Homo sapiens: one gene and its partners. The protein of the gene in region 1 purifies or fractionates together with the protein of each later gene. This does not show direct contact. Each region holds a gene or a part of one and is shown in the gene's direction. Other genes may lie near its edges.

Evidence for each region. Proteins that work in one complex are often made in the same cells at the same time.
Region 2: the proteins of MAU2 (region 1) and PALM2AKAP2 purify together in Homo sapiens (affinity purification with mass spectrometry, with the first as the bait; one large-scale study listed by BioGRID). This does not show direct contact.
Region 3: the proteins of MAU2 (region 1) and SETX purify together in Homo sapiens (affinity purification with mass spectrometry, with the first as the bait; one large-scale study listed by BioGRID). This does not show direct contact.
Region 4: the proteins of MAU2 (region 1) and STK38 purify together in Homo sapiens (affinity purification with mass spectrometry, with the first as the bait; one large-scale study listed by BioGRID). This does not show direct contact.

What each region holds. Positions count from the first base shown.
Region 1 is NC_000019.10:19,351,829-19,355,328, forward strand, and holds part of MAU2 (MAU2 chromatid cohesion factor homolog), read left to right. Parts: intron 1-2,526; coding exon 2,527-2,617; intron 2,618-3,435; coding exon 3,436-3,500. UniProt on the Homo sapiens protein: Plays an important role in the loading of the cohesin complex on to DNA. Forms a heterodimeric complex (also known as cohesin loading complex) with NIPBL/SCC2 which mediates the loading of the cohesin complex onto chromatin.
Region 2 is NC_000009.12:110,136,698-110,140,197, forward strand, and holds part of PALM2AKAP2 (PALM2-AKAP2 protein isoform 3 (PALM2-AKAP2)), read left to right. Parts: coding exon 1-1,842; intron 1,843-3,500. UniProt on the Homo sapiens protein: Binds to regulatory subunit (RII) of protein kinase A. May be involved in establishing polarity in signaling systems or in integrating PKA-RII isoforms with downstream effectors to capture, amplify and focus diffuse, trans-cellular signals carried by cAMP.
Region 3 is NC_000009.12:132,327,487-132,330,986, reverse strand, and holds part of SETX (probable helicase senataxin), read left to right. Parts: intron 1-487; coding exon 488-3,500. UniProt on the Homo sapiens protein: Probable RNA/DNA helicase involved in diverse aspects of RNA metabolism and genomic integrity.
Region 4 is NC_000006.12:36,523,480-36,526,979, reverse strand, and holds part of STK38 (serine/threonine-protein kinase 38), read left to right. Parts: intron 1-1,337; coding exon 1,338-1,389; intron 1,390-2,516; coding exon 2,517-2,639; intron 2,640-3,500. UniProt on the Homo sapiens protein: Serine/threonine-protein kinase that acts as a negative regulator of MAP3K1/2 signaling. Converts MAP3K2 from its phosphorylated form to its non-phosphorylated form and inhibits autophosphorylation of MAP3K2.

The sequences.
Region 1 (3,500 bases):
GTTTGGTAATTTTTTTTTTTTTTTTTTTTTTTTTTTTTGAGATGAAGTCTTGCTCTCTTGCCCAGGCTGGAGTGTAGTGGTGTGATCTCGGCTCACTGCAACCTCTACCTCCCAGGTTCCACGGATTCTCCTGCCTCAGCCTCCCGAGTAGCTGGGATTACAGTCGAGCACCATCACACCTGGCTTATTTTTGTATTTTTAGTAGAAATGGGGTTTCGCCATGTTGGCCAGGCTTGTCTCAAACTCCTGACCTCAGGTGATCTGCCTACTTCAGCCTCCCAAAGTGCTGGGATTACAGACGTGAGCCACTGGGTAATTTTATATTTGCCTTTCTCCACACCTCTGTATTGGAAGCTTTTTTTTTTTTCTTAATGGCAATGAGTGTTTTGAAGCCACATCTACTCTGTAGTTTAACCATTCTCACTGTAGCCATTTCCACAGGACAGATAAAGCAAGATGTGTGTCTTGGCCTGTAAAGTTTCACGTGATCTGAGGGCTCCCTCAGCATGGATGCTGTTAACAAACGTGGTGCCCGCCCACCGCAACACACAGACACATAACTGTGTGGTAAGCCTTTGCAGAGGCCAGCGAATGGGCCCTGCAGCTCAGGCCCTGGTGGGCCTTGGCCTCAGCACTGGGGATGCCACTACCCCGTCAAAACCTGTAGCTGGCTCCTTCTAGAATGTGCTATCACCCTGCCCTCAGCCTCTGAGCACAGTGAGGGCTGTATGTCCCCACTGGACAGTGCAAGTGGCCTGGGGGTGTGTCAGATGGGGAGGTTAAAGTCACACAGCCCCAGACCGCAGAATCAGGACTGGAACCCAGACCTCACTGGCTCTGATTTGTGTAGAAACCCCTGGAAGCTGCCTGGAGCAGGGCAAGGAGGGTTGAGCAGCTGGTTCACTGCTGCTCCTGGCCCATGTTTTAGGTGTTGTGGGGGCATCTTACAGAGCTCTTTTGGGAATCCCCCTCTGCTCCCTGTGTCCCTGGGCCCTTGTCGGGTGACAAGCGGCGCCCAAGAACTCTCAGACCAAGGTCCTGGCCTTAAGTGACTCCAGATCTCGGGGAGACACAGCCAGACACAGCCAAGCCAGTCCTGTGAGGTCAGGCTGGGGACATCCAGAAAGGTGGCAGCCTTGGGGGCCGGGATAGTGTTGGTGCAGGCAGGGCAAGGTTGGCTAGGCAGGGGCTGCCACAGAGATGGGCACCACAGCAGTCAGAGCACAAGTGCCGGAGCAGACGGCTGAATGGCCACAATGGGCTCAGGTGAGGGTCCAGGGGCCCAGAAGAGCTTGGGATGCCCTGTCCTGAGCCTGTTAGGCTAGAGTGTCCACAAGAGCGGGACACCCCCCAGGATCACTCAAGTCTTCAAAACCAGATTCTGTGGGGTACCCCAAGCTGGCATTGGGGGAACCTACCCAGGAGCGCTGAAGGAGGACTCTCCTTCCCCAGGCTGCTTTCAGACAGAGGTCCTTGGCTTTCTACAGGGAGCCCAGCCAGGCTCACAATAAGCCAGGCCTAGCGGAAGAGAGCAGTTTTTCTTGCTCTGAGGTTTCAAAAGGGCTTGGTGAATTTTAAAAAGCTCCAAGACCCACCTGGAGCTCACTTTCAAGGTGCAGCTACAGGGCAGTGTAGAGTTGTTGGGCTTTGTGTCTCAGGAGGAGCATCTCTGCACTCTGGAGAAGTATCTGGTGGCGTCAAAGCCAGGTCTCAGGAGTTGGTTTTGGGGATGTGTCCATCTTGGCTTCCCAAGTGCTCCCTGGGCTGCCAGGAGCCATCATCTAGGGAATTTTCCAGGTCTTACCTGAACCCCACATCCAGGCTTACAGGGCTTTGAGTCCTCGGTCCAGACAGGGTCAGTCCAGCACTGCTGGTCGCCTGTGTAGCACAGGCTCCTGTCTGCCGTCTCCAGGCCCTTGCCATAGCAACAGGGATGGGCATTTATGGGCCCTGATGGCTCTTACTGAGCTCTTCCTGCCACATCCTGAGGATGCTAGGGCTGCAACTGGGGTGGCCCTGTGCAGTCACAAAGCAGGGAGTCCGGATTGGAGGATTCTTACATGCTGGTGCCCCCAGAGCCCCTGCGTGTCTGCGGGGGCCTCCCATGAGAGCCAACTCAATTGTGGAAGACAAACCGGAGGGGCTGCTGCCCTTCTCAGAACCTGAAACCTGGAACCCTATATGAATCTGCATTTCTGATCAGCCCCCATTGTGGGTCTAGGGCTAACGGCCATCAGTGCTTTTTCTCTGCTTGAACAGGTAGAAGCCCCCAAAGTTGTCCATTGGCCATGCCCCTGTGAGGGCATGAGCCAGAAGTGAGGGCAGTTTGTTTTTCAGTGATACTTCAGAGAGGGCCATTTGAGATGGGCTCTGAGGTAAGCATAGGAGTTCACCAGACGCAGAAGGAGGTCACAACCTGGGCTGGGTTCAGTAGGTGGGTTCCAGATTATCCCCACCCCAACCTGGGCTGGGTTCGGCAAGTGGGGTCCAGGCTCCTCACTCCCCCTTGCTGCTCTTGGTTGACAGGAGAGTAACAACATGGTGGTGCCTGCCATGCAGCTCGCCAGCAAGATCCCGGACATGTCGGTACAGCTGTGGTCGTCAGCACTGCTGAGAGGTGAGTGCAATGGCCACCCCTCTTCCCCAGCCCCAGCCTGGCCCTCCCCAGAGATCAAGGCTGCTGGGCATGTCCTGCTCAGCCTTAGCTCGGACTAGGCCTCCGTGGGCCGCAGCCCCAGTTCTAGCATGGGTAGGGGGTGCTCCTCAGGAGACCCTGGTTGAGGGCAGTGGGTGCATTTGTGGCATCCGCTTGACTCGGGGTCTGGTTCAGTCTCTATAGGACACAGAGGCTGCGACTTGGTATCTGGTAGACTTGGGCTGTTAGCCGTGGCGCTCTCAGCCTTGCTTCTTCCCGGAAAGGCAGACAGCAGCCATACCTATTGGGTAGGGCTGGCCAGCTAGCTCTGGGAGCAGGGCGGGCACTCAGCGGGTATCATTGCTGTTACCGCAGCTCCCCCATTTCCAGATTACGAAACTAAGGTCCGGAGACTCGCCTGGGGCCCTGGGGAGGTGACAGGAGACGGGGTGCTCCATGTGCAGTGGGCTGCCTGGGGCTGCTGCCTCAGGATGGGCATTGGGCGTCCTGCCCCAATGAGCGCCTGTTTGCCTGAGGGCTGGCCATGGGCTCCCTGGAGGGCTGGCGAGAAGCCTGGCATTGGGCTTTCACTGCCCAGCCAGCCCTGTTCTGCCCTATGAGGGCGGCTGGCGCATGGGCTTTGTGATCCCAAGACAGGGCTCAGGTCCAGTGACGTGCCAGGCACCCAGAGATCCACCAGTGCAGCTGGGACTTGACCTTAGGGCTCCATCTGCACCGAGTGGGAGGGCCTGGGCAGTGACAGGGCAAGGCGGGCCCCCATGCTCATGTCCCACTCTCAGACCTGAATAAAGCCTGTGGGAACGCCATGGATGCCCATGAAGCCGCCCAGATGCACCAGAACTTC
Region 2 (3,500 bases), on another chromosome or scaffold:
GCTCCACAACCAGCTCACGGTGTTCTTCCCGAGATGGAGAGTTCACTCTCACCACACTGAAAAAGGAGGCCAAGTTTGAGCTGCGTGCCTTCCATGAGGACAAGAAGCCCTCCAAGCTCTTTGAGGATGACGAGCATGAGAAAGAACAATACTGCATTAGAAAAGTGAGGCCTTCAGAGGAGATGCTGGAGCTGGAAAAGGAGAGGAGAGAGCTCATCCGCAGCCAGGCCGTCAAGAAGAATCCTGGCATTGCAGCAAAATGGTGGAATCCCCCGCAGGAAAAAACCATCGAGGAGCAGCTGGACGAGGAACATCTGGAGTCGCACAAAAAGTACAAGGAGCGCAAAGAGAGAAGGGCACAGCAGGAACAGTTGCTGCTGCAGAAGCAGTTACAGCAGCAGCAGCAGCAGCCCCCATCGCAGCTCTGCACAGCCCCTGCCTCTTCTCATGAACGCGCAAGCATGATTGACAAAGCAAAGGAGGACATTGTCACAGAGCAGATAGATTTCTCTGCTGCTCGCAAACAATTTCAGCTGATGGAGAATTCCAGGCAAGCGGTGGCCAAGGGCCAGAGTACACCCAGGCTGTTCTCCATCAAGCCTTTCTACAGGCCTCTGGGGTCAGTCAACTCAGACAAGCCACTGACTAATCCGAGACCACCTTCTGTCGGGGGACCTCCAGAAGACAGTGGTGCCTCAGCCGCCAAGGGACAGAAATCCCCCGGTGCCCTGGAGACCCCATCGGCAGCAGGAAGCCAGGGCAACACAGCCTCTCAGGGGAAGGAAGGGCCCTACAGCGAGCCTTCTAAACGTGGGCCCTTATCTAAACTGTGGGCTGAGGATGGAGAATTTACGAGCGCCCGGGCTGTCCTCACTGTGGTCAAGGATGATGACCATGGGATTTTGGATCAGTTCTCAAGATCTGTCAATGTCTCCTTGACCCAAGAGGAGCTTGACTCTGGTCTGGACGAATTGTCGGTGAGGTCTCAGGATACCACAGTCCTGGAGACCCTATCCAATGATTTCAGCATGGACAACATCAGTGACAGCGGGGCATCCAATGAGACAACCAATGCCCTCCAGGAAAATTCACTGGCTGATTTTTCTCTGCCCCAGACACCACAAACTGACAACCCCTCAGAGGGCCGAGGAGAAGGCGTCTCCAAGTCATTTAGTGATCATGGTTTCTATTCCCCTTCCTCCACGCTGGGGGACTCTCCGTTGGTTGATGACCCCTTGGAGTATCAGGCTGGCCTCCTGGTGCAGAATGCCATTCAACAAGCCATAGCCGAGCAGGTGGATAAAGCTGTGTCCAAAACCAGCAGGGATGGAGCAGAGCAACAGGGACCTGAAGCGACTGTAGAGGAAGCTGAAGCTGCGGCTTTCGGCTCAGAAAAGCCTCAGAGCATGTTTGAGCCACCTCAGGTGTCTTCTCCTGTTCAAGAGAAAAGGGATGTATTACCAAAGATTCTGCCTGCTGAAGACAGGGCGCTCAGGGAAAGGGGGCCCCCCCAGCCACTGCCAGCTGTGCAGCCCAGTGGCCCGATTAACATGGAGGAGACCAGGCCCGAAGGAAGCTATTTCAGCAAGTACTCGGAGGCAGCTGAGCTGAGAAGCACAGCCTCCCTCCTGGCCACTCAAGAATCTGACGTGATGGTTGGGCCTTTCAAGCTGAGGTCCAGGAAACAGCGGACTTTGTCCATGATTGAGGAAGAGATCCGAGCAGCTCAGGAAAGGGAAGAGGAGCTGAAGAGGCAGAGACAAGTCTTGCAGAGTACGCAGAGCCCCAGGACAAAGAATGCCCCATCACTGCCCTCCAGAACATGCTACAAAACTGCTCCAGGTAAGTGAGGTGCCTCACATGAGAGACAGATGCCACAGCAGTCTGTTGTTGTTGATTCCAGCTCATGGGTTTCTATGTGGAGCCTCCTCTGTGTGTGTCTGGAATAAGTGTTGGGGGGACACTGGCATGAGAATTCCAGCATACAGGGACATGCAACAAAAGTGTCAAGAGTGTCCTCTAGAAGAACCCTGAGCTTGCATGGAGTTTGCCACTTTCCAGAGGATGCAATAGCTCCTTCTTTGTTGTTCTGCTTTGGCCTTGGTTTATTATAAAGAATTGTTCTCTTTTACTTGAAAGCCTGCCTCTTGTCTGAAGGAGAGGCTGTTTGTGGCATAGAACCAGAGTGGACCCATGTGTGGACTATGTTGGAATCAGTAGCTTGACCCTCAGTATCTAGTTAAACCCATCTGATTTGGGAGTTGTCCTCTACTAACTAACCCCTTCTGAATGCTGGTTTCCTTCCCAGCAATGATAGTCATGGCATGGCATTGCAGACTGGTCCATGCAAAATGCTTTTGTTCATCTTCCGTGTAACTGGGTTTTTCTTCTTAAGTCACCACAAAGCAACTACTTTGGAATCAGGAGTGGACGCATCTGTTCTTGTCATGTGACCCATTTGGAAAAGTTGAATTACTCTTCACAAAGGCAGGTCTTTAATCCCTTCATATTGCCTGGGTGGTCCCTTTTTTGAATACTTTGTATAGATGGTTGATGTTAATTAGAGTGCTAATTATTATTGCTACCATATGGATAACAGTGTGACCAGTTGTTTTTATTTTCCATGTGAATGTGATAGCAATCAGGGATCCACAGATCTTCAGCTATGGAAAACGCTGCTCAAAGCGTGGTCCAAGCTAGTCCAGGAATCATTTGCTACTGGTTCATTCTAAGTTCAGACATCGAGAGTAAGCATTTGAAAACTCCTATTGCAATGTGATATTGTCCTGAAATCCAAGCGTGGGATTTTTGTATTTTACAAAACTATTGCTTCATAATGGACTGGTGGGGAAAAACTGATGCTTCACCAGAGAAAATTTAAGAATCGTTACCCTAAAGGATAATTGTTGACACTTATCTTGGTCCATCCATATCTTAATCTTATCTTGACACTTGGCTTCCATCAAACCTACAATGACTCAAGGTCACTCTTCTCATTAACTTTTTAAAATTGGAAAGAATCTCCAACCTAAAGAAAAGTTCCCAAGTACAGTACAAATGTCTTTCTGTTTTGAATCATTTGAGAGTAAATTGCCAACATGATGCCCCATCACCCCCAATTTTGTAGACTGCTCCCTAATGTGGGTCTCTGATGTTTTCATATGATGATTTTCAGGTTGTGCATCTTTGGTAGGAATACCACCAAATTGATGCTGTGTTCTCACTGTATCCAAACAGGTAGCACGTGGTATTAGTTTGTCCCATTATGGTGACAGGTGTCAACTCTGATCACTTAATATTGATTATGATCACTCCATTGAGGGAGTGTCTGCCAGCCTTCTGCACAGTAGTTACTTTTTTCTTTTGTAATTAATATACATTTTGTAGGGCAATACTGTGGTATTCTGCAATTTTCACCCCATTTCTTATCAAACTTCATTTATTTATGTCGGTATGATCTCATGGATTCCTGTGATATTCAATGGATTCCTGTGATATTC
Region 3 (3,500 bases), on another chromosome or scaffold:
TAATTTGTTGAGTTGCAGATTTTGTGATATGTAGCTGTTCTCAATCTACTGCTATGTAAAAGCCCTTCTCATTGAACAGCAGATGTATTGTGTGTTGGGGAAGATGGACTCTAACTACAGTATGCATACTTTGGAAAATTAACTTATAAGTACATTTAGGGAAGATGGAAAGTTTATGGGGACATACATGGCATGACTAGAAATCAAAACTAGCTAGTGGACAGAAGGTGAGAGTACATAAAGGTGTTACCAATTTGTCTTTTTATGAAAACTCAAAATTCAATTTATATTTTCACTTTCTTGGGAGTTAGGTGTATTACGATTGTGATATAATTATATGCCACAATTATACCATTGTATAGCATAATAATGATGTGGTAAACCAAAATAAGAGAGTTGAGAAACGTATTTTTCTTAACGACTTGGGTGTTGAACCTGTCATAAGTGGTGCTTATTTATCTGAACATCAGCATTTCTTTCATTTTAGGATTCTGGATGGAGAACAGCCATTTGCCCAGATTATTGTCCTAACATGTATGAAGAAATGGAAACATTAGCCAGTGTACTTCAGTCAGATATTGGTCAAGACATGCGTGTTCATAACAGCACATTTCTATGGTTCATCCCTTTTGTCCAGTCCCTCATGGATCTTAAGGATTTGGGTGTGGCTTACATAGCACAGGTTGTTAATCATCTGTACTCTGAAGTCAAAGAAGTCCTCAACCAAACAGATGCTGTGTGTGACAAAGTCACTGAATTTTTTCTTCTAATTTTGGTATCAGTGATTGAACTGCATAGAAATAAAAAATGTTTGCATTTGCTGTGGGTAAGTTCCCAGCAATGGGTGGAAGCCGTCGTCAAATGTGCCAAGCTTCCTACCACTGCGTTTACACGGAGTTCTGAGAAATCATCTGGAAATTGCTCCAAAGGAACAGCAATGATATCTTCACTGTCATTGCATTCCATGCCATCTAACTCTGTACAACTTGCTTATGTGCAGCTGATTAGAAGTCTCCTTAAAGAAGGTTATCAGCTTGGGCAGCAGTCTCTTTGCAAGCGATTCTGGGATAAGCTCAACTTATTCCTTAGAGGAAATTTATCTCTAGGTTGGCAGTTGACTAGTCAGGAAACCCATGAGCTACAAAGTTGCTTAAAGCAAATTATTAGAAACATAAAATTCAAAGCACCTCCATGTAACACTTTTGTGGATCTGACTTCTGCATGTAAAATCTCTCCTGCATCTTATAATAAAGAAGAAAGTGAACAAATGGGGAAGACGTCTAGAAAAGATATGCATTGTTTGGAAGCTTCCAGCCCAACATTTTCTAAAGAACCAATGAAAGTGCAAGACAGTGTATTGATCAAAGCAGATAACACTATAGAAGGTGACAATAATGAGCAAAATTATATAAAGGATGTGAAACTAGAGGACCATCTCTTAGCTGGGTCATGCTTAAAGCAGAGTAGTAAAAACATTTTTACTGAAAGAGCTGAAGATCAAATTAAAATAAGTACAAGGAAGCAGAAGTCTGTAAAAGAGATCTCTTCATATACACCAAAGGACTGTACTTCAAGAAATGGTCCAGAAAGGGGATGTGACAGAGGAATAATAGTATCAACACGTTTGTTGACTGATTCTAGCACTGATGCTTTGGAAAAAGTGTCCACATCGAATGAAGATTTCTCTTTAAAGGATGATGCTCTTGCTAAAACCTCAAAACGAAAAACTAAGGTACAGAAAGATGAAATCTGTGCAAAGTTATCACATGTAATAAAGAAGCAACACAGGAAGAGTACTTTGGTCGATAATACTATCAATTTAGATGAAAATTTGACTGTATCTAACATTGAGAGTTTCTATTCAAGGAAAGATACAGGAGTTCAGAAAGGAGATGGTTTCATACACAATCTTTCTTTAGACCCTAGTGGTGTTCTGGATGATAAGAATGGAGAACAAAAATCTCAAAACAATGTATTGCCAAAAGAGAAACAATTAAAGAATGAAGAATTAGTTATTTTCTCTTTCCATGAAAACAATTGTAAAATACAGGAATTTCATGTTGATGGTAAAGAATTGATCCCTTTTACAGAAATGACCAATGCTTCAGAGAAGAAATCATCTCCCTTTAAAGATCTTATGACTGTACCTGAATCAAGAGATGAGGAGATGAGTAATAGTACCAGTGTGATTTATTCTAACTTGACAAGAGAACAGGCCCCTGACATCAGTCCTAAATCTGACACCTTAACGGATTCTCAGATAGACAGAGACCTTCACAAATTATCTTTACTAGCTCAAGCCAGTGTTATTACGTTCCCATCCGATTCACCTCAGAACTCATCGCAGCTGCAAAGGAAAGTAAAAGAAGATAAAAGATGTTTCACAGCTAACCAAAATAATGTTGGAGATACCTCCCGTGGACAGGTTATTATTATTTCAGATTCTGATGATGATGATGATGAAAGAATCCTGAGTCTTGAGAAACTCACTAAACAGGACAAAATATGCCTTGAGAGGGAACATCCAGAGCAGCACGTTTCAACAGTTAATAGTAAGGAGGAAAAGAATCCAGTAAAGGAAGAAAAGACAGAGACTCTTTTTCAGTTTGAGGAATCTGATTCTCAGTGTTTTGAGTTTGAAAGTTCATCTGAAGTGTTTTCAGTTTGGCAAGATCATCCAGACGATAATAATTCAGTTCAAGATGGTGAGAAAAAATGTTTGGCTCCTATAGCCAATACTACAAATGGTCAGGGTTGTACAGATTATGTATCTGAAGTTGTTAAAAAAGGAGCAGAGGGCATTGAAGAACACACAAGACCACGGAGTATTTCTGTTGAAGAATTTTGTGAAATTGAAGTAAAAAAGCCTAAGAGAAAACGATCTGAAAAACCAATGGCTGAAGATCCTGTGAGGCCTTCATCTTCTGTCAGAAATGAGGGCCAGTCTGATACTAATAAGAGAGATCTTGTGGGAAATGATTTTAAAAGTATTGATAGAAGGACTTCAACTCCCAATTCACGTATTCAGAGAGCCACTACGGTTTCACAAAAGAAGTCTTCAAAGCTTTGTACTTGTACAGAACCCATCAGGAAAGTTCCAGTTTCTAAGACCCCTAAGAAAACTCATTCAGATGCCAAAAAAGGACAGAATAGAAGTTCAAATTACCTAAGTTGTAGAACAACTCCTGCTATAGTGCCGCCAAAGAAATTTCGTCAGTGTCCTGAGCCAACTTCAACAGCTGAGAAACTTGGCCTGAAAAAGGGTCCTCGTAAGGCATATGAGTTGTCCCAGCGGTCTTTGGATTATGTAGCTCAATTACGTGATCATGGCAAAACTGTTGGAGTAGTTGATACCCGAAAAAAGACTAAATTAATTTCTCCTCAGAACCTGTCTGTCAGAAATAATAAGAAACTTCTGACTAGTCAAGAACTTCAGATGCAAAGGCAGATCAGACCCAAATCACAAAAAAATAGACGAAGACTTTCTGATTGTGAAAGTA
Region 4 (3,500 bases), on another chromosome or scaffold:
ATTTATGATCCACCCTCCTCAGCCTCCCAAAGTGCTGGGATTACAGGCGTGAGCCACCACGCCCGGCCTTTTTGTTTTTTTTGAGACAGGGTCTCACTCTGTCACCCAGGCTGGAGTGCAGTGAGTGGTGTGATCTCTGCTCACTGCAGCCTCCACCTCCTGGGTTCAAGTGATTCTCCTGTCTCAGCTTCCCAAGTAGCTGGGATTACAGGGTATGCCACCATGCCTGGCTAATTTTTGCATTTTTAGTACAGACCAGGTTTCACCATGTTGGCCAGTCTGGTCTCGAACTCCTGACATCAAGTGATCCACCCGCCTCGGCCTCCCAAAGTGTTGGGGTTACAGGCGTGAGCCACTGCACCTGGCCTAATTTTTATATTTTTAGTAGAGATGGGGTTTCACCATGTTGGCCAGGCTGGTCTTGGACTCCTGACCTCAAGTGACCCATCTGCCTCACCTCCCAAAGTGCTGGGATCACAGGCGTGAGCTACCACACCCAGCCTGATATATGGAGTTTTGATAGTGGTGCCAGTCACCTTTTTGATCACTTTTTCCCCTTAAATTTCCAAATTCTGCTTTTAACTTTGTTGTTTGTTACCCTTTCCTCATGGCAGGGAAGAGGAGGAAGATGCAGAAATAAAGGAAGTAGACTTCAGTCAGAGAGAGGGAAAGAAACAGCATGATATAAGAGTTTATCAAATACCAGCTGTTTTGTGGTTTGGTAAGGAGGAAATAACTGGAAAAAAAAAAAAAAAAAAACACCCAAAACCAAGAGAGGACATTTTTTTGAAACAAGAGTCTTTGTTGCATTAACATCTTAGACAGTCTTTTAAAAAATGTAGACCTAAGGGCGGGGCATGGTGGCTCACACCTGTAATCGCAACACTTTGGAAGGTCAGGCTGGAGTTTGAGACCAGCCTGGGCAATATAATGAGACCTCATTTCTACAAAAAATTTAAAAATTAGCCAGGTATGGTGGCACGCGCCTGTAGTCCTAGCTACTTGGGAGGCTGAGGTGGGATTGCTTGAGCCTGTGAGGTGGAGATTTCAGTGAGCTGAGATTGCGCCACTGCATTCTAGCCTGGGTGACAGAACAAAACTCTGTCTCCTCTCCTCGCAACCTGCCCCCCTCCCCCCGCCAAAAAAAAGTAGGCCTAACAAAGGATGGAAATCTTTTTACTTGTCTTAGTAACTTAATTTTTTTTGTTTTAATGAGACATTTTGAGATTTACCTGTTTGTGTCATTTTTAAAAATCTACTACAGTATTAAGTTACAGAATTTTCAGAAAGTTATCATTCAGATGTGATTTCATGTCTTTTGTTTTTGTTTGTTTTAGACAAAAGAAGTTAGAAAAGGTGATGGAAGAAGAAGGCCTAAAAGATGAGGAGGTAATTAATATTGGCAATGTTTTCCTTAAAACCCAGCGTGGCAGGTTGTATCTTGTCCAGTGAGTTGTTAGCCTTGGTACACATGAGAAGGGTTTTGGCTCAATAACAGAGGAACTTGAGGGGTAGTGTGCTTCCGGATTTGGGTGTTAATTCAGAGGGACAGATTAATTATTAAGTACCTAGGAGAGGAAGGCTTCTCTAGATGCAGTTATAGTAAACTAGATTTAGAATTCCAAGAGAAAGCAGGGATGAAATCAAATTAAATTTTAAAAGAGCAAGTTGTAGCATTTTTATAGAATTCACTGAAAAGTCTCCGTAGGAGTAGGGCAAATTTTTGAAATATTTATTTATTTTACTTTTTCTGGGATACATACGTGTGCTGAACATGCAGGTTTATTACATAGGTATATATGTGCCATAGTGGTTTGCTGCACCTATCAACCTGTCATCTAGGTTTTAAGCTCCGCATGCATGAGGTATTTGTCCTAATGCTCTCCCTCCCTTTCCCCCCATGCCCCGACAGGCCCCGGTGTGTCATGTTCCTGAAATCTTTATTAAGGCAAAATATCCATCTCAAATCAGCCCTTCCACCCAGTGCCCACAGATACAGTAGGAGAAAATATAGTTAACAAGGGACTGTGCAAGGAACTGAAATGGTAGTGGAAATGCCTTCAAAAATAGGACTGGCTTGCAGAACCCAGGACGGTGGTGAAAAATACCCAATACTTGTAGAAATAACAGAAAGTTAGAGTATACAGTGTTTAAGCCAGAGGGAAAGATAAGAACACATTTTTAATTTATATTAAACAGGATAAAGGAAAATATTGTTGATTATTTATCCCTCCCTTCACCAAAAATGTTAGGATAGTGGATTGCTGAAGTAGGTTAGTCAGAGTTCCCAGAGGAGGCACCCATCTGTTCAGTGTGGCTTGGATGTTGTGTCTAAATGCCAGGAAAGGGAGAAGTGACCTCTTAAGGATCCTTCTGGGGTGATTTCATATGTGAAAAGATTATCCTTAGTCCACTTGGACCTGTTTTCTAGCTGGGTAAGTCACAAACATGACTTGTTACAGAGTTTCAGAATTTCAGTTCCTTCCCGTCTCCTCCCTTTTTTATTTAAATATTAGAAACGACTCCGGAGATCAGCACATGCTCGGAAGGAAACAGAGTTTCTTCGTTTGAAGAGAACAAGACTTGGATTGGAAGATTTTGAGTCCTTAAAAGTAATAGGCAGAGGAGCATTTGGTGAGGTAAAAATCACAGCTACTTGTCAAGTAGAAAAATATTGCAAAACTTCAAAGCTTCTAACATACCATTAAGTCATGATTGTTGATATAACAAATATATGGAATTAAATGAGTCAGGCATGCCAGCCCCACATCCTAATTGCTTTGTCTGTCTGCTTTCTCTTTTTCTTCTCTCCGCAGTCCCAGATCTCTGTTCTCTGTTTTGCCAGAGATGGTGTTGGTGTTTAAATATTGACTTAGGGGGAGAGTTGAAAGGTAGAAGGAAATCAACATTTATTATTTACAGGCTGCTTTTTTCCCATAATCAGGACAGTAACCCATTTTATAGATGGTGAAATTAAGACTCTAAAGGTATATATAATGTCTCTTGTTATCACACAGCCATTGAGTACTGGGACCAAAAGTTGGGCTCTACTTCCTGAACTCAAAGAGCTTGCTTTTCCCAGTACTGCACTGCCTCTCGAGAAGGAAACTAATAGTGTATCTCCACCCTTTATTTCTCCCCACCAGATTGATACAGCTCTAAAAAGATGACCCTAGGAGGGAGGATTTACAGAAAGGAGTTATATAGGTAGTGGTGGAGAGTTGAAAGCATTTGCGACTTTGTCCCCGCAATTCTTGGAAATGATCCTGCTTGGGCACAAGAGCAATCTGTTGGGGAGAGCTTGAAAGAGCCCATGCAAGGTCATTCCTGTTAATGAAAAATGCCCAAACTGGATGACCTACTGACGCAATAATTGCAAGTATAAAAGGAGCAGTATATTATTAAAACCTGGTACCCCGGGGCCAGGCACGGTGGCTCACTCCTGTAATCTCAGCACTTTGGGAGGCCAAGGCGGGCGGATCACAAGGTCAGGAGTTCGA